2 linked regions of the Homo sapiens genome follow. The protein of the gene in region 1 purifies or fractionates together with the protein of each later gene. This does not show direct contact. Each region holds a gene or a part of one and is shown in the gene's direction. Other genes may lie near its edges.

The links.
Region 2: the proteins of PPM1G (region 1) and COPB2 purify together in Homo sapiens (affinity purification with mass spectrometry; 2 studies listed by BioGRID and IntAct, with this or other methods). This does not show direct contact.

The regions. Positions count from the first base shown.
Region 1 is NC_000002.12:27,384,162-27,393,677, reverse strand, and holds part of PPM1G (protein phosphatase 1G), read left to right. Parts: intron 1-101; exon of another isoform or gene 102-1,055; intron 1,056-6,519; coding exon 6,520-6,589; intron 6,590-7,398; coding exon 7,399-7,484; intron 7,485-7,798; coding exon 7,799-7,931; intron 7,932-8,589; coding exon 8,590-9,005; intron 9,006-9,516.
Region 2 is NC_000003.12:139,357,171-139,365,705, reverse strand, and holds the end of COPB2 (coatomer subunit beta'), read left to right. Parts: intron 1-3,188; coding exon 3,189-3,299; intron 3,300-4,410; coding exon 4,411-4,625; intron 4,626-6,343; coding exon 6,344-6,436; intron 6,437-6,527; coding exon 6,528-6,708; intron 6,709-6,893; coding exon 6,894-6,962; intron 6,963-7,434; coding exon 7,435-7,506; intron 7,507-7,747; coding exon 7,748-7,843; 3' UTR 7,844-8,300; downstream 8,301-8,535. UniProt on the Homo sapiens protein: The coatomer is a cytosolic protein complex that binds to dilysine motifs and reversibly associates with Golgi non-clathrin-coated vesicles, which further mediate biosynthetic protein transport from the ER, via the Golgi up to the trans Golgi network.

The DNA.
Region 1 (9,516 bases):
GGGAGATGGAGGTTGCGGGGAGCCAAGATTGCGCCACTGCACTCCAGCCTGGCGACAGAGTGAGACTCTTTCTCAGAAAAAAATATGATAATTAAAAGTTGAGACGTTCTTCGCCGAGAGTGGTCGGGGTTTCCTGCTTCAACAGTGCTTGGACGGAACCCGGCGCTCGTCCTGCACCCCGGCCGGCCGCCCATAGCCAGCCCTCCGTCACCTCTTCACCATGCCCTCGGACTGCCCCAAGGCCCCCGCCGCAGCTCCAGCGCCGCGTAGCCACCACTGCCGCTGCCGCCGCCTCTCCTTAGTCGCCGGCATGACGACCGCGTCTACCTCGCAGGTGCGCCAGAACTACCACCAAGACTCAGAGGCCGCCATCAACCGCCAGATCAACCTGGAGCTCTACGCCTCCTCCATTTACCTGTGCGTGGCTTACTACTTTGACAGCGATGATGTGGCTTTGAAGAACTTTGCCAAATACTTTCTTCACCAATCTCATGAGGAGAGGGAACATGCTGAGAAATTGATGAAGCTGTAGAACCAACGAGGTGGCCGAATCTTCCTTCAGGATATCAAGAAACCAGACTGTGCGGGGAGAATGCGATGGGAGAGCGGGCTGAATGCGATGGATTACATTTGGAAAAAATTGTGCATTTTGCATTACATTTGGAAAAAAATGTGAATCAGTCACTACTGGAACTGCACAAACTGGCCACTGACAAAAATGACCCCCATTTGTGTGACTTCATTGAGACACATTACCTGAATGAACAAGTGAAGGCCATCAAAGAATTGGGTGACCACGTGACCAACATGCACGAGATGGGAGCGCCCGAATCTGGCGTGGCAGAATACCTCTTTGACAAGCACACCCTGGGAGACAGTGATAATGAAAGCTAAGCCTCAGGCTAATTTCCCCATAGCCATAGGGTGACTTACCTTGTCACCAAGGCAGCGCATGTATGTTGGGGTTTCCTTTACCTTTTCTATAAGTTGTTCCAAGACACCCACTTAAGTTCTTTGATTTGTACCATTCCTTCAAATAAATAAATTTGGTACCCTCCCCCCCCCCAAAAAAAAAATGTACTGTGGGCTGGCGTAGTGGCTCATGCCTAAATCTCAGCACTTTGGGAGGCTGAGGCGGGAGGATCACCTGAGGTCGGGAGTTTGAGACCAGCCTGGGCAACATGGTGAAACCCCGTGTCTACTAAAAATATAAAAACTAGCCAGTCATGGTGGCACACACCTGTAATCCCGGCTACTTGGGAGGCTGAGGCATGAGAATCACTTGAACCTGGGCTGCGGAGGTTGTAGTAAGCTGAGATCATGCCACTGTACTCCAGCCTGGGTGACAGGGAGACATTCTCTCTCTCAAAAAAAAAAAAAAAAAAAAAAAACAAAACAAACCAACAAAACAAAGTAATCCAGGAACAACAACATGATGAAGGACTGCATGCAGGACTCAGTGATGGATGGTGGAAGACAGCCAGGAAGTTAAGCATGACTCTGGTATTAAGTGTTGTCTGGGAGAGTTAAGATTCCATTTACAGAAATAAGACCTGTAGGGGAAGCTCTTGATTTTTTTTTTTTTGCAGACTGCTGATTTCCTGATTACATGTGTTAAGTTTGAGGTATAGAGAGAAAGAACATCCTGGCCGGGTGCAGTGGCTCACACCCGTAATCCCAGCACTTTGGGAGGCCAAGGTGGGCAGATCACGAGGTCCAGGAGATCGAGACCATCCTGGCCAACATGGTGAAACCCCGTCTCTACTAAAAATACAAAAATTAGCTGGGCGTGGCGGCGCGTGCCTGTTATCCCAGCTACTCAGGAGGCTGAGGCAGGAGAATTGCTTGAACCCGAGAGGCAGAGGTTGTGATGAGCCGAGATCGCGCCACTGCACTCCACCCTGGCAACAGAGCTAGACTCTGTCTCAAAAAAAAAAAAAAGAAAGAAAAAAAGAACATCCTGTAGAAACAGGCAGTCAGAGGTATAGAACTACACAGAATCCAAGAGATCTTTCAAGAAAAGTGACATGCAGCAAGAGAAACTATCAAGGGGGTAAACAACCTATAGAATGGGAGAAAATATTCACAAAGTATACATCCAACAAAAGTCTAATATCCAAAATCTATAAGGAACCTAACAAGCAAAAAGCAAATAACCCCCTTAAAAAGTGGGCAAAGGACATGAACAGATACTTCTCAAAAGACGTACATGTGGCCCACAAACATGAAAAAACGCCCATTTCTAATCATCAGACAAATGCAAATTAGAACCACAAAGAGATACCATCTCACACCAGTCAGAACAGCTTTTGTTAAAATGTCAAAAAATGAGAAACGTTGGTGAGGCTGCAGAGGAAAGCAGACACTTGTACACTGTTGGTGAAGGTGTAAATTAATTTAGCGTAGGCACAGTCAGTTTGGAGATTTCTCAGAGAACTAAGAGTGGAACTACCATTAGACCCAGCAATCTGATGGCTGGATATACGGCCAAAGGAAAATAAATCATTCTGCCAAAAGAACATATGTACCTGTATGTTCATTGTGGCACCATTCACAATAGCAAAAACATTGAATCAACTCATGTGCCCATCAGTGGCGGACTAGAAAAGAAAAGAAAATATGGTACATAGCCATCATGGAATACTATGCACCCATTAAAAATAATGAAATAATGTCTTTGCAACAACATGAATGTAGCTGGAGGGCATTATCCTAAGCAAACTAACACAGAAACAGAAAACCAAATACTGCGTGTTCTCACGCAGTGAGAGTGGGAGCTGAACATCAAGTACACATGGATGTAAAGATGGCAACAATAGACATGGGTCTACTAGAGGTGGTGGTGCGGCAGGGTGGGGGTGGGGGTTGTGTGGCAGAGGAACAGCTGAAAAACTACCTATTTGATACTATACCCAGCACCTGGGAAACGGGTTCAGTCATACCCCAAACCTCAGCATCACACAGTATACCTTTCTAACAAACTTACACATGTATTCTGTGATTCTAAAATAAACATTGAAAAATAAAAAAAAAACTGACATGGTTTGTACTGTTTAATCTGACATAATGGCTAGGGGAAATGAAGTCTGCAGAATGGCTGTTTACGGATGTTGTTGTTGTTGTTGAGATGAGGTCTCACTATGTTGCCCAGGCTTGAACTCCTGGCCTCAAGCAGTCCTCCTGCCTTGACCTCCCAAAATGTTGAGATTACATGCATGAGCCATTGCCAAAACGGCTATTTGGATTGCTGTTAAGGTTATTACATTCTCTGTGTAGTAAGACCTTGAAGGAGAAGGATTTGAGATCAGGAGTTTAAGAAAAAATGTTAATCTAGGAAGAGAGGATAATTTCTGTGTTTGGCCAGTTGCAATGGCTCACGCCTGTAATCCCAGCGTTTTGGGAGGCCGAGCTGGGCAGATCACTTGAGCTCAGGAGTTTGAGAAGAGCCTGGGCAACATGGTGAAGCCCCGTCTCTACTGAAAATACAAAAATTGGCTGGGCGTGGTGGCAGGTGCCCACTGTAATTTCAGCCACTCAGGAGACTGAGGCAGGAGAATTGCTTGAACCTGGAAAGTGGAGGATATGGTGAGCCTAGATCGCGCCACTCTACTCCAGCCTGGGAGACTCCATCTCAAAAAAAAAAGAAAACAAGATGCTGAAATGAAGTAATTACCACAGTCAATGTGATCCTATAACTTTGTTTTGTTTTAGAGATGGGGTCTCCCTCTGTCACCCAGGCTGGAGTGCAGTGGTGCATCATAGCTTTCTGCAGCCTCCACCTCCTGGGCTCAGGTGGTCCTCTTGCCTCAGTGTTCCGAGTAGTTAGGACTGACTGCAGGTGCATGCTGCTATGCCTGGCTAACTTTAAAATTTTTTTGTAGAGGCGGGGTCTTGCTATGTTGCCTAGGCTGGTCTCCAACTCCTGATCTCAATCAGTCCTCCTGCCTACCTTCCCAGAGCGCTGGGATTACAGGTGTGAGCCATCGCACCTAGCCAATCTCATAACATTTTATGACTAGCAAACTTAGTAGTTCTGATTCAGGCATAAATCAGTTGGTGGGGTTATACAAGGTTGGGTGAGTTTTTCTAGATTTCTAAGAGACCATGTTGAAATACTTGGCTCTGTCTCAGTAAGGGATAGAGAGAAGCAAAGGTGTGGGTAAAGGTTATGAGCAGACATGTAAAGGGGGCAAATTAAAGTGTTTAGGGAAGGTGAAACAGTTCCAAATCATAATATAGATCCCAAGCCTCACCAAGAAGTGAAGGAGAGGGTAATTGTGCGATAGTTCTCAGGACTGAGACCTCAAGGTGTAAGACGAATCTTTATTGTGGGTGGTCCTCTTTGAGAAAAAGAACAAAAAAGAAAAATGTGAAATGGGTGCTAAATTTCAGAGCAGAATATACATATATGTGTATGTGTGTGTGTATATATATATATATTTTTATGTAGCAAATTCCAGTTTACAAAGGGCTTTTATGTGTTTTGCATCATTACAACAGTTCTGTGATGATGTGGATGTGGTGGATATTGTAATTCCACATCACAGAGGATAAAATTGAGGCACACCATAAGGTAGCTGACCAGAGATCATGCAGTATATGGTAGAATGGCAACTTGAGGCCAGTTCTTAGGTGTGTTTGTTGTCCTTATTCAGAATGGAACAATGTGGTTTATTGTACAAAAATTTAAAAATGAATGTCGAAAAGTAGAAATTATTACCCAAATCTCACCCTCTGTGGTTGTTTGCTATGTGATCTTCCAGACTCACATATACATGTAGATAATTTTTTTTTTTTTTTTTTGAGACGGAGTCTTGCTCTGTCGCCCTGGCTGGAGTGCAGTGGCGCAATCTCGGCTCACTGCAGGCTCTGCCTCCTGGGTTCACGCCATTCTCCTGCCTCAGCCTCCCAAGTAGCTGGGACTACAGGCGCCCACCATCACCTCCAGCTAATTTTTTGTATTTTTAGTAGAGACGGGGTTTCACCATGTTAGCCAGGATGGTCTCGATCTCCTGACCTCATGATCCGCCTGCCTGGGCCTCCCAAAGTGCTGGGATTACAGGAGTGAGCCACTGTGGCCGTCCTCACATGTAGATACTTTTTTAACTTTTTGCTTTTAACCACTTAAGATATTGTGAACTCATTTCCAAATTAACATATATTTGCTTTTAACAGCTACATTTCCACTGGAGTTACGTACCATTTGTAATCTATTCCTGGAAATTTAGATGGTTACAACTGTTTTTTATTTTATTTATTTATTTATTTAGAGACGGAGTCTGACTCTGTCACCCAGGCTGGAGCGCAGTGGTGTGATCTTGGCTCACTGCAACTTCCACCTCCGGGGTTCAAGTGATTCTCCTGCCTCACCCTTCCGAGTAGCTGGGACTACGGGCGCACACCACCACGCCTGGCTAATTTTTGTATTTTTAGTAGAGACGGGGTTTCACCATGTTGGCCAGGATGGTATTGATCTCTTGACTTCATGATCTGCCGGCCTTAGCCTCCCAAAGTGCTGGGATTACAGGTGTGAGCCACCACGCCTGGCCTCAACTGTTTTTTATTATAAATAATGCTGTAGGCCGGGCGCGGTGGCTCACTTATGTAATCCCAGCACTTTGGGAGACTGAGGCGGGTGGATCCCGAGATCAGGAGATCGAGACCATTCTGGCTAACAAGGTGAAACCCCGTCTCTACTAAAAATACAAAAAATTAGCCGGGTGTGGTGGTGGGTGCCTGTAGTCCCAGCTACTTGGGAGGCTGAGGCAGGAGAATGGCGTGAACCTGGGAGGCGAAGCTTGCAGTGAGCAGAGATCGCACCACTGCCCTCCAGGCTGGGCGACAGAGCGAGACTCCGTCTCAAAAAATAATAATAAATAAATAAATAAATAAAGCTGTGTACAGCCTGGCCAACACTTTGGGAGGCCGAGGCAGGCAGATCACAAGGTCAGGAGTTCGAGACCAGCCTGACCAACATGGTGAAACCCCATCTCTACTAAAAATACAAAAGTTAGCCGGGCATGGTGGCACATGCCTGTAATCTCAGCTATTCAGCAGGCGGAGGCAGGAGAATCGCTTGAACCCACGAGGCGGAGGTTGCAGTGAGCCAAGATCGCGCCACTGCACTCCAGCTTGGGTGACAGGGCGAGACTCTGTCTCAAAAAAAAAAAGAAGAAAAAATCCTTTATTCTGGTTTTCCCGTAGCTTCCACAGATCCAAAAGGGTCAGGTTTATTTCCAGTAGCCAAATATTCTGCCATCTGGACTGAGATATCTCCTAGGTTGAGGTTATTATAGAGGTAGTAACCTGATTCTTTCTTCCTTTTCTCCTTCCCCTTTCCTCCTTTGCCTCCCTCCTCTTTTCTTCCTCTGTATTTATTTTATCATTCCTTCTTCCTTTCTTATTTCTAGGCCATATAGGCCAGCCAGGGAAAGGTTAGTAAGGGGTGACATTGATCCCTATGACCTGAGGAATATTCTTCGACCTTGAGACATGCCGATTATGCTCTTCTTTTCCTAGGATGCTCACAACTGTATTCCTGAGCTGGACAGTGAGACAGCCATGTTTTCTGTCTACGATGGACATGGAGGTAACTTTAACAGATCATATTGGTAACATTCTAGGACCCCAATTCCAGACGTTCCAGGGCAAGAACAGGTCCCTTTGTTCATTTACTTTCCAGGGTCTGGCCCTCATTATCATTTCCTGCGTGGTGCTGTTTTTCTGTATTCTGTCATTCTTTTTTCCCAGTAGGTACTGTATTGGTTTATAATCTCACCAGGACTTGTTTTAATCCAAAGAGCCTCTATCTTTTTTTATTTTTATTTTTTAAAATTTTTAGGCTGGGCACGCGGTAGGTCACACCTGTAATCCCGGCACAGTGGATCACGAGGTCAGGAGTTCGAGACCAGCCTGACCAATATGGTGAAACCCCATCTCTACTAAAAATACAAAAATTAGCTGGGCGTAGTGGTGGGCGCCTGTGGTCCCAGCTGCTCGGAAGGCTGAGGCAGGAGAATCGCTTGAACCTGGGAGGTGGAGGTTGCAGTGAGCCAAGACCATGCCACTGCACTCCAGCCTGGGCAACAGAGCAAGACTCTTGTCTTAAAAAACAAAAAAGTGTACCCAGTTGAGCTGATTCTTTATCTTTTTTTCACTGGAGAACTAAGTATACAGGTGAGAAAAGACGAGATATTTATACCCGAGAGAATTGATGGTGAAATCCATTTTTTTGGATCAGAACTTCCCCAAACAGTGTCCTTCAAATAGGGTTCAGGGGTGCTAAGATATTTATCCCCTCAACCCTTGGGGTTCACTCCAGTATGGCATATAAATATTGTATCACTTTCTATGTGTGGGGAGCAGTGCTCCAGGTGACCTTCCTTCCTTTCCTTCTAGGGGAGGAAGTTGCCTTGTACTGTGCCAAATATCTTCCTGATATCATCAAAGATCAGAAGGCCTACAAGGAAGGCAAGCTACAGAAGGTCTGTCTGCTTACACCGCCCATTCCTCACTTGTGTAGGCTTTTCCCTTGTTCTCTAGCCCTTGGGCTTTTCCTTTCTTTTTGTCCTCTAGCTGCTGCTGCTTATTTACTCTTGAAGAATTCTGTTCCTAAAACGAGCTTATTGGCCGCCTTTTAGACTTGCCTTATTATTCCTAGGCCTCTGAGCTGTTTTTATCTGTGAGTGTCTCTTAGTGTGGTGGCTCACACTCTTAATTTGTATTCCATCCTTGTGCTCAGGATTGTATATAGGGAGTTCATTTTGTACTAGTCTTAGACTATTTTGCTTATATTCAGGCTTTAGAAGATGCCTTCTTGGCTATTGACGCCAAATTGACCACTGAAGAAGTCATTAAAGAGCTGGCACAGATTGCAGGGCGACCCACTGAGGATGAAGATGAAAAAGAAAAAGTAGCTGATGAAGATGATGGTGAGTGTGGCATCCCTTGTTTGAGGGGAAATCAGCATTTTAAGAAATATTCTTTAATATTACTTATCAATTCTAAGATAGGATGGCTTTCTAGGGACCTGGGGAGTCCTTATGTTAAAGAAACCTATGATGTTCTCCTGCATTGTATGTGGTTATGAAAAGGAGGGAGAGAATTATCTTCGTTGAGTGGCATCTGAGCTGTAAGCATTGTATATACATTATCTTTTGTCATTGTGATGGGGTCTTCCTGGTTCCTGCTAGTATTTATGTGCTTTTTTTTCCCCTCAAGACTGGAGCAGTTATTAGCCCCAATAGCCAATCATTAAGCCTAAATCCTAATTCACAGTAGCATTGTGGGCTTCCTGGATCCTCAGCCAGAATAGGGTTTTTACAACTTAACAATAAAAAATGAGACGTCAGAGGGGAAGTATAGTAACTAGTGTTGTTTTGATTAAGAAGGGGATGAAACACAAAAACCAAAAGAAGTCTGTGGAGGAGGAGGAGCTAGGGCATGTTCTTCTGAGACTTGAGCGAGAGGAACCTTGGGAGTGGGAGGTTGTGGGGAAGTTAGAGGCTGCAAGGGCTGTTGAGGTAGTGAGAGGGACGGATCCCATGAGGAGTCTGGCATGGGGGCTCTGATTTAGCCTCTTCCCTGCAGTGGACAATGAGGAGGCTGCACTGCTGCATGAAGAGGCTACCATGACTATTGAAGAGCTGCTGACACGCTACGGGCAGAACTGTCACAAGGGCCCTCCCCACAGCAAATCTGGAGGTGGGACAGGCGAGGAACCAGGGTCCCAGGGCCTCAATGGGGAGGCAGGACCTGAGGACTCAACTAGGGAAACTCCTTCACAAGAAAATGGCCCCACAGCCAAGGCCTACACAGGCTTTTCCTCCAACTCGGAACGTGGGACTGAGGCAGGCCAAGTTGGTGAGCCTGGCATTCCCACTGGTGAGGCTGGGCCTTCCTGCTCTTCAGCCTCTGACAAGCTGCCTCGAGTTGCTAAGTCCAAGTTCTTTGAGGACAGTGAGGATGAGTCAGATGAGGCGGAGGAAGAAGAGGAAGACAGTGAGGTAAGGGCCTGTGAGGGCAGGCAGATGCTGAAGTTGCAGAGAGGTCCTGTTTGGTTGCCGTCTGTAGTTTTCAACTCTCTTTCCTTCTCCTATTTTGACATCATCCCCCAAGACCCACTGTATTCTAAGCTTTAGTCTTGAATTCATTGAGCTCCATCATCACAGGTACCATTTGCCTTTTTACCTCTTCCTTTGTTGGTACTATAACAAGCAGATCTAGTTCTGGCTTTTCAGAGTCTGTCTCCTAGAGAGAGAACAAGGAGATAGTTGTTACCTTGGCTAGTTGACTGTTTTCTTCTCTGGAAAATTTATTTTCTGGCCACAGTGCCTGAAAGATATTTTTGGCTGGCAGCCCTTGCCTTGTCCTGGGCTTTTTGCTAGTGACTGCTAAGCCCAGTTCAGGATGTCAGTTGTACTCATGCTAGCCCTTTCCATCCCCCCAATTTTCATGACCATATACTTGTATCTTTCAGTGTTTTGAGGACCTGTGTTCAGTCAGGACCTCTTGATT
Region 2 (8,535 bases), on another chromosome or scaffold:
TCTCCAGAGTTCCTGAAGATCTCCTTTCAGTTTGCTTAGTCTCCTTCAGACTGCACTGGTTTTCCTGCTCTCATCATGGATTTCCCCTCACCATCATGTTGGGGCTTCCTTTGCTTCTGTCCTGTTGGATCCATTGTTTCTTATACCCCTATCTCCTTTCCTGCTTTGCTCCCTCATTTTAGGGGAACATGCCCTTCAGCAATTTCCTGAGAAAAGGATTGTTAATGAGAGATAAATTGTTTTGTGACTTTGAATATCTGAAAGTGCCATTGTTCTACCCTAAAACATATTCAACCATTTAACTGGTATATAATTGTTGGAGGTAATTTTCTCTCAGAATTTTGAAGGCATTGTTCCATTGCCTTGTAGTTATTGTTGAAGTCTAAAGCCATTTTTATTCCTCATTCTTAGTACATGACCTGGTTTTTCTCTGTGGAAACTTTCTGAATGTCATCTCTGTTGTACTGAAATGTTATAATCATGGTAGGCCTTGGTAGGAATCAGTTTTCATTAATTCTGCCAGTTATTAGATGAGCTTTTTTAATGGGAAACTTATGTCCTACATTTCTGAAGGATTTTCATGAATCGTTCTATGGTGATATCCTTCGTTTTCTGTATTCTGTCTTTCTGGAATTGTTCATGTTGTATGTCCTGCACTGATTTTCCTATTCTCTTTTAAAATCTTATTGTTTATAGATAAAAGTTTCTCGTATCTTTCTACAGATATGAATGATATATTTCTGTTTTTAGATTTTGAAGTTTTCTCTTCCCCCTATATGGTATGCTTCCTTCACGTTCCTTTTATTGCTTCATTTTGATCTGCATCTTTGCTGTTAGTGATTTTCCTCAAGTATCTGATGTCCTTGGGCCCTCATTTAAGAGTGAAGGTACAAGAAACAGATCAGAAGGTCTGAATTTGTGGGTGGGGCATATTGGGTTTGGATTTCACAATATCTGGTGTGGTTGGCCCATTTGATTAGGGAGTCTCAATGTCAGTATCTTTAGCCAATGAATTTTTGATGACTTTCCATTTATGTAATGAATTTAACAAGCACTTAACAATGTGCTAGGCACTGTTCCTGCTGACATGTAGCCTTCATGGAGTTGACATTTTAGTATTTTTAAGTCTTTTCCCTTGGGCTCAGTAGATTTTACTGAAAAGCTCCCCAGTCACCATCATTTTGGGGTCTCAGTAGAAGATACCTTGGAGTCTCAGTATTTAATATTTCATTGAGTCTGTGTATCCATTTTCATAATCTCCTGTCTTCCTTTGATACTCTGTACTTTTTCCTCCAAGTGTGCTTGGAATCTCCTGGTCTGGAGACTCTTTAGTTTGTCCTCTCCAAAGAATAAACCTGTCTTCTTTGTCATGAGGTGGGAGAGGGGAGGTGAGAGAGGGGAGGTGGGAGAGGGGAGCGGATCTAGAGTTTCTGAATGCTTTTAGGGCAGTTTGTTTGTTTTTAGCCCTACCATTCATGAGACACACTGGGTGTAAATCACATTGTTTCTATGCTGTTCTCACTCCTGATTTAGGATCTGTTTTCTCTACTGTTTTAACAAAATGTTTATATTCCTCCACCAGCTTTCCAGCTTCCAAACTTTTGTTACTGTTTCCTCTCCCTTTCTGTGTGTCGTTGGGAGCTTATGCCTTTAAAAAAAAATCCTTTTAGTGTGATTTTATTAGTAGTAGGGAATTAGCAGAAAACAAAAGTATATATTTTAGTCCGCCTCATTTCATGTGTTTTGCCCTTGGCTGTATCTGACTAGTTCCAGAGATCTTCCATCCTCCACTCTTGGGTTTTATGTTATCTATATCAATGCTAGTGGAAAAAAAGTAACTCCGGTTATTTAGAATGCCTTATTTACATCGTATTCATGGATGGATCGGGGCGGGTTGGCAGCCTGTATAAGCTGAGAAGTTAAAACATTTCAAACTTGATGATAAAGCCATCCTGAAGATATAGCCAGACAGAACCCTAAAGCTGTCCAGCTTCTCAATCTTGACTATCCCATAAATGAGCATTCTCCCTCAGTCTGGTGAAGAGGTAAACTATCCCTGAGCTTTTTGTGTAACACATTACATCCCTAGAGCTAAAAATGACCCCATCAGTAGTGTTTGTCTTGAAGGAGAAGCTAATTTAATAATTACAATAGTTGATTTAAAACAGTGGTCCCCAACCTTTTTGGCACCAGGGACCAGTTTCGTGGCAGATAGACAATTTTTCCACAGATGGGAAGGGGGTACATTTCAGGATGAAACTGTTCCACCTCAGATCGTCAGGCATTAAGAGTCTCATAAAGAGCACAGAACCTAGATCCATCACATGTACAGTTCACAATAGGGTTCATGCTCCTATGAGAATCTAATGCCGTTACAGGCGGAGTTTAGGCGGTAATGCTCACTCACCCACCCACCCACTGCTCACCCTCTGCTGTGCGGCCTGATTCCTAACAGGCCACAGACTGGTTGTTTGGGAGACCCCTGGTTTAAAAGCTTGTTCTTAATGCCTTAATGGAGCATGGGAAGGAAATTTTAGACTTCCTGTCTTTTGGATACTTGCTGAGGAACTGGACTTGAGACCAACAATAAAGGAATAGGTAATGACACCTAATTGGTGACTGGACCTGAATACACAATGTTTGCTATGACCTACAGATGACAGAAAGTTGGAAGGTTTTATATTTGACTCCCGTTTCTTTGGCCATTTACTGCTAATAGTCTCATCTGCAAAATGAGGGGTTGGACTAGATGATCTCTACTTCCCAGCCTAGTTGAGTAGATTACCAACAGCTAAGTTTACACTGCTGTGCCTAGTTTTCTTCTTTTGAAATGATTCTTGTTTAGTCAACTTTGCAAAATTCCTTTCTTTTTGACATATCTGTTTATATTTACATTTCCAGTTTTACTGGTTACTTGAGTTTAACATTAGCCAGCTTCCATTATCCTAATAAACAGTAAGAATTCTGTCACTGAATATTTTATCTGCCAGGTTTGTTCTTACCACTTCCTTTAATGACTCCTTAATTATTCCATCTTCTTATTAAATAGTGGGGTTTCTAGTTTGAGAGGGAAATGATTTGCTCTGTGAATGTGTGTACACTGTATATGTGTGTGTATATATATATATATAAAACATACATACATTTTTGTATGCATAAATATATATAATTTTTAAAAATCTGTTTAGGGCTTCAAGCAGCAAGCTCTTACAGTATCCACAGATCCTGAGCATCGTTTTGAGCTTGCTCTTCAGCTTGGAGAGTTAAAAATTGCATACCAGTTAGCAGTGGAAGCAGAGGTATGTACTAATTCATGATTTTTCATAACTGATGGAAAAGTCAGTAGGTACTTCTATGTGTTTGGTGTAATGTTTTGTTATTAAAGTTTTCCCAAATGCAAATTAGTGGCTCATTTTGTTGAAGTTATTGTCTCTCTCTTATCTTTTTAAAAGATGTATTATGTTAAACTTTGCATAAGTTAAATTGATTACATTGGAGATATTCTTAGCACTCTAATTTGTTTTAAGAAAAATTGTTTTCATATCTTATGTGAGCTCTATTTTGCAAGATAAGAAAAGATGTAAAATAGTATGTAAACTAGTCTGGAAAGCCTAAGAGTACAGACATAGCAGTTATTTGCCAATGTCTGAAACTAACTAAAAATATGTTGGTTTTGAAAGACAGCCCAACCCCCTCATCTTTTGGTGTTGAATAGAGCAGGCAGTCAGAGAAGGACAGTGCTGCCTTGGTGGCACTCACCTTCAGCAGCAGATGCTCTTAGCACATCTGGTCTAAATGTTTGAGCTAAATGAGCTGTTCAGGGAGGCTCAAGTGGGAGAAATGTTAATACCATTTTTGTAATGATATTTTTATAGATCTTTGTATATTGAGGCTCCCAATTGTTTCAGACTGGCATTTACTGGTAAATTAATTTCAGATGTGCAAAATAAATTTTAGCTACGTTAAGATCATCTAAACATGCAGCATTTTGAGTTCTGAAAAGCTACAAGTGAGACATAATATTATTGTGAAATATTTAAAGACGTAGTTTTGTATGCTTTCAAAAAAGTGATATTAAATCACTTGTTAAAATAATTGCAGTCTAATTGCCTTAAAACTCCAGTGAGATGGTTTTACTTTCCCTGTGTAATTATAAGATAAAAGTATAATGGGTTGACGATAATTATTTGCACATCATTAAAATTGATTTGTGTTTAAATTCATTTTGTATACATTAATAATTTCCATTTCCTCACTGTACATTTTGCAATGCCATTCTTATTTTGATAGAGCCAACTTAACAAACACAGCTCTTTTTATAAACATTGTCTGCACAGTTAACAGAATAATGTTGGAAATGTAAATGCTTATTTCTAAAGATATTTTAACTTGGAAACTCTTTTCTTACAGTCAGAACAGAAGTGGAAACAACTTGCTGAACTTGCCATTAGTAAATGTCAGTTTGGCCTAGCCCAGGAGTGCCTGCATCATGCACAGGATTATGGGGGCCTGCTGCTTTTGGCCACTGCCTCTGGAAATGCTAATATGGTGAACAAGCTAGCAGAGGGTGCGGAGAGAGATGGCAAAAATAATGTGGCATTCATGAGCTACTTTTTACAGGGCAAGTGAGTATTAATTTAAAAGATTAATTAATTCTACACTGAGGATGGTTTTTGGAGAGGGAAGTGAAGAATGAACCCTGGAGAGAACTGATGAATGGCCAAATGGTGTTGAATAGACGGGGCAGTCAGAACAGGACAGTGCTGCCTTGGTGGCACTCACCTTCAGCAAGGGATGCCCTTAGCACATCTATCTAAATGTTTGAGCTAAATGAGCTGTTCAGGGAGGCTCAAGTGGGAGAAATGTTAAACACCTTCTTCAACAGCCCTGCCAGTTAATGGTGGAAGCATTTTATTTTATGATTGCAGGAGGCTATTGAGCTGCTCTAGTAGGTACCTGAAGGGCAGGTGATTTTACCCAAATTGGATAACTTTGATCCATTTATGGCAAGAACAAAAGGGGATAAGTATGCCACTTACTTGTAGATTTGAGCCCACTATAAAGCATAAAGATGTCTCATATTTTTAAGTCTAACCGAGTTAGCATAAACCAAATCATTTGGACATTAGTTGGCAGTATTATGAAATAAAACACAAAAGTATTCTTTCCTTTTTTTTTTTTTTTTTTTGAGATGGAATCTCACTCTGTTGCCCAGGCTGGAGTGCAGTGGCATGATCTCGGCTAATTGCAGCCTCTGTCTCCCTCGTTCAAGCCCTTCTCCTGCCTTAGCCTCCCAAGTAGCTGGGATTACAGGCATGCGCCACCACACCCGGCTTGTGTTTTTAATAGAGATGGGGTCTCACCATGTTGGCCAGGCTGGTCTCAAACTCCTGACCTCAAATGATCCGCCTGCCTCGTCCTCCCAAAGTGCTGGGATTATAGGTGTGAGCCACCACGCCCAGCCCGAAAGTATTCTTTAACCTTCTCCTACATACTGATTTTTTTTTTTTTTTACAATCCCATACTTCGCCATATAACTTTGAACGTGCACCCCATTGTATGTATGTGAATGTATTTATGAATTTATATACCTGTAAGAATAGACCCTATTCCTTATCCATAATTCAAAAATCCAAAAATATTCTGAAAACAGTTATAACTGTTTTGATGGCAAGACCTGAGCTGAACTGCTTTAGTATTTTTAGTTGCTTTTATACCAACTTGGTACATTTTTATTGCATTTAACATTCCTATGTAAGTTATTGCAGTATTAATGTTTGTGGCTTTTTCATGCTGAGGATGTAAGGTAATACATAGTATACATACTGTATCACCTTTCGAAAATCCAAAAAATCCTGAATTCTGAAACATATTGTCCACATCATAAAACTTGCACAGAAAAAAAATGAAATTAAAATAGAAGAAAAAATAAGACACCATGGTATTCTGCTGGGCACCACTGGCTTGTCTGGCCCTTCCCATGTTGGAGACACTGCCCTAGATATTTGTCTTGTGGAACTGAATTTCTGCTGGCATATATCCTTATGCCTTTAAAATTTGCTAATCTAACCTGCCTTAACTCCTCTTGAAAAGCCCCTTTAGGTTCTTAGGAATTATAATAATTAAGTTAAGTAGATTCAAAGTAGTCAGGAAAGCTGTCTTATCCCTCATACCCTTGCAGTGTGTTGATTAACAACCATTAAAAGACAAGTGACAGAAATGAGATATATGTGTGAAGATTGGGGAGATTTTTGGCTTTGTAACACTAAATTTACTTTGTGTTAAGTACCCATTATTATAGTGTTTATTCTTGGTAACAGTACCTCTCCTTTTTAATGTTTAGGGTTGATGCCTGCCTAGAGCTCTTAATTAGAACTGGACGGCTGCCAGAAGCTGCCTTCTTGGCCCGAACTTACTTACCCAGTCAGGTTTCAAGGTACAGACTTTTAATTTTAGGAAGAAATGTTTCCAATAAAAAGAGAGCACATTTACTTAGTCTCTCTTTGGTTCCATGATGTCTATAATAGGGTAGTGAAACTCTGGAGAGAGAATCTCTCAAAAGTCAATCAGAAAGCAGCAGAATCCCTTGCTGACCCAACAGAGTATGAAAACCTGTTCCCTGGATTAAAAGAAGCCTTTGTTGTTGAAGAATGGGTGAAGGAAACACATGCTGATCTGTGGCCAGCCAAACAATACCCACTTGTCACGGTGAGTGGCCAGGATGTCAAGCTTCATTTATTGTAACTACAGGGTGGAAGTACATTCAGGACTTCAGATTTTGAACTGCTGTCTTCTTTTAAAATTAAGAGCTGATATCTGGGATTTAGGCCAAGTTCATAGGTAAATTATGATTTCAGAATATCTCATTTCATCATTGCTTTATTCTCTGATAGCCAAATGAAGAGAGAAATGTCATGGAAGAGGGAAAAGACTTTCAGCCCTCAAGATCTACAGCTCAACAGGTCAGTAGAGCACTTCATGTGATAAATTTGGCTGAGATGGTTCACTTTTTTTTTTTTTCTTTTGAGACAGAGTTTCGCTCCATTGCCCTGGCTGGAGTGCAGTGGCGCGATCTAGGCTCACTGCAAGCTCTGTCTCCCGGGTTCACGCCATTCTCCTGCCTCAGCCTCCCGAGTAGCTGGGGTAATTACAGGCGCCCATCACCGGTCCGGCTAATTTTTTTGTATTTTTATTAGAGACAGGGTTTCACTGCATTAGCCAGGATGGTCTCGATCTCCTGACCTCATGATCCACCTGCTTCGGCCTCCCAAAGTGCTGGGATTACAGGCGTGAGCCACTGTGCCTGGCTGAGATGGTTCACTTTTAAACATCATCTCCCACTTCCTAATTCTGATCATCCTTTTCTTGGGGGAAAACTTTAAATTCCCGAGTAAATTCCCTTGTCTTCATATATATCTTCACTTGTGGTTTCAGGAACTTGATGGGAAACCTGCTTCTCCTACTCCGGTTATTGTGGCCTCCCACACAGCCAACAAAGAAGAAAAGGTAGGTCAGACATCATACTCAAACCTCCCTCTACCCCATCTTCCTCCCCATCAATATCTGGAGGATACGTAGGCCTCTGTGGTTTAAGTGACATCAGTTTCAGAGCAGGGGCTTTGAAATGGGAAGATGCTCTTTTTGACTATTAAGAAAATCTTAGTTCTCACTTTGAATCATGAACCCACGGATAACTTTCCTTTAACAGTACTGTAAAACTTAATTACCCTCTTCCTTTTGTCTGCAGAGTTTACTCGAACTAGAAGTAGATTTGGATAATTTGGAATTAGAAGATATTGACACAACAGATATCAATCTGGATGAAGATATTTTGGATGATTGACTGTAATGCTTTCCATTTACCTGACTAAACAGATCATTATTATATATAGGTATTGATTGCTACCCTGACCACAGTGCTTTGGACTATGAGAAACTTCTTAGATTTTTATATGTAAATGCTGTGGACCACTGGGAGCACAATGCCCACATCATCTTAAGAAGAGTTTATGTGCAGCATTTAAATCACTGTGTTTTCCTTGTTAACTAAAACAGACATGGGCTTTGATTTTTTTCATACTATTAGACCATATCTCATAAAACCTTTTGAATTAATGAAGGTACTTGTTTCCTTTCTCAATAATGAAAATAGGCTTCTAGTTTTAGAAGGCTGAGCCGAAACTACACCTTGCCTAGGGATCAGCCCCACTGTCTTTTCTTTGTATAACTAAATCTGCATTTTCAAATGTTGTCAATCACATTTTTCTTAGAGCTGAATATCCAGGCTGTAATTCTCTAAACCCTTTTTCTTGACCTCATTGCATCATTCCACAGGTCTTGCCCCGATTTTGTCTAGCAGCTACCCATTTCTGGAGTCAGGATGTGAAACCTCTGTTCCTCTGACCTCATTAAGCTGGGGGTCTGTCTAAGTTAACGTTTGCCCTATTTGGTAACACAAAAACACACCAGACTTTTTAACCGTACGCTCATCTAACATGATTTGAGAAATTCATAACCAGGCACTCAAATATCCTT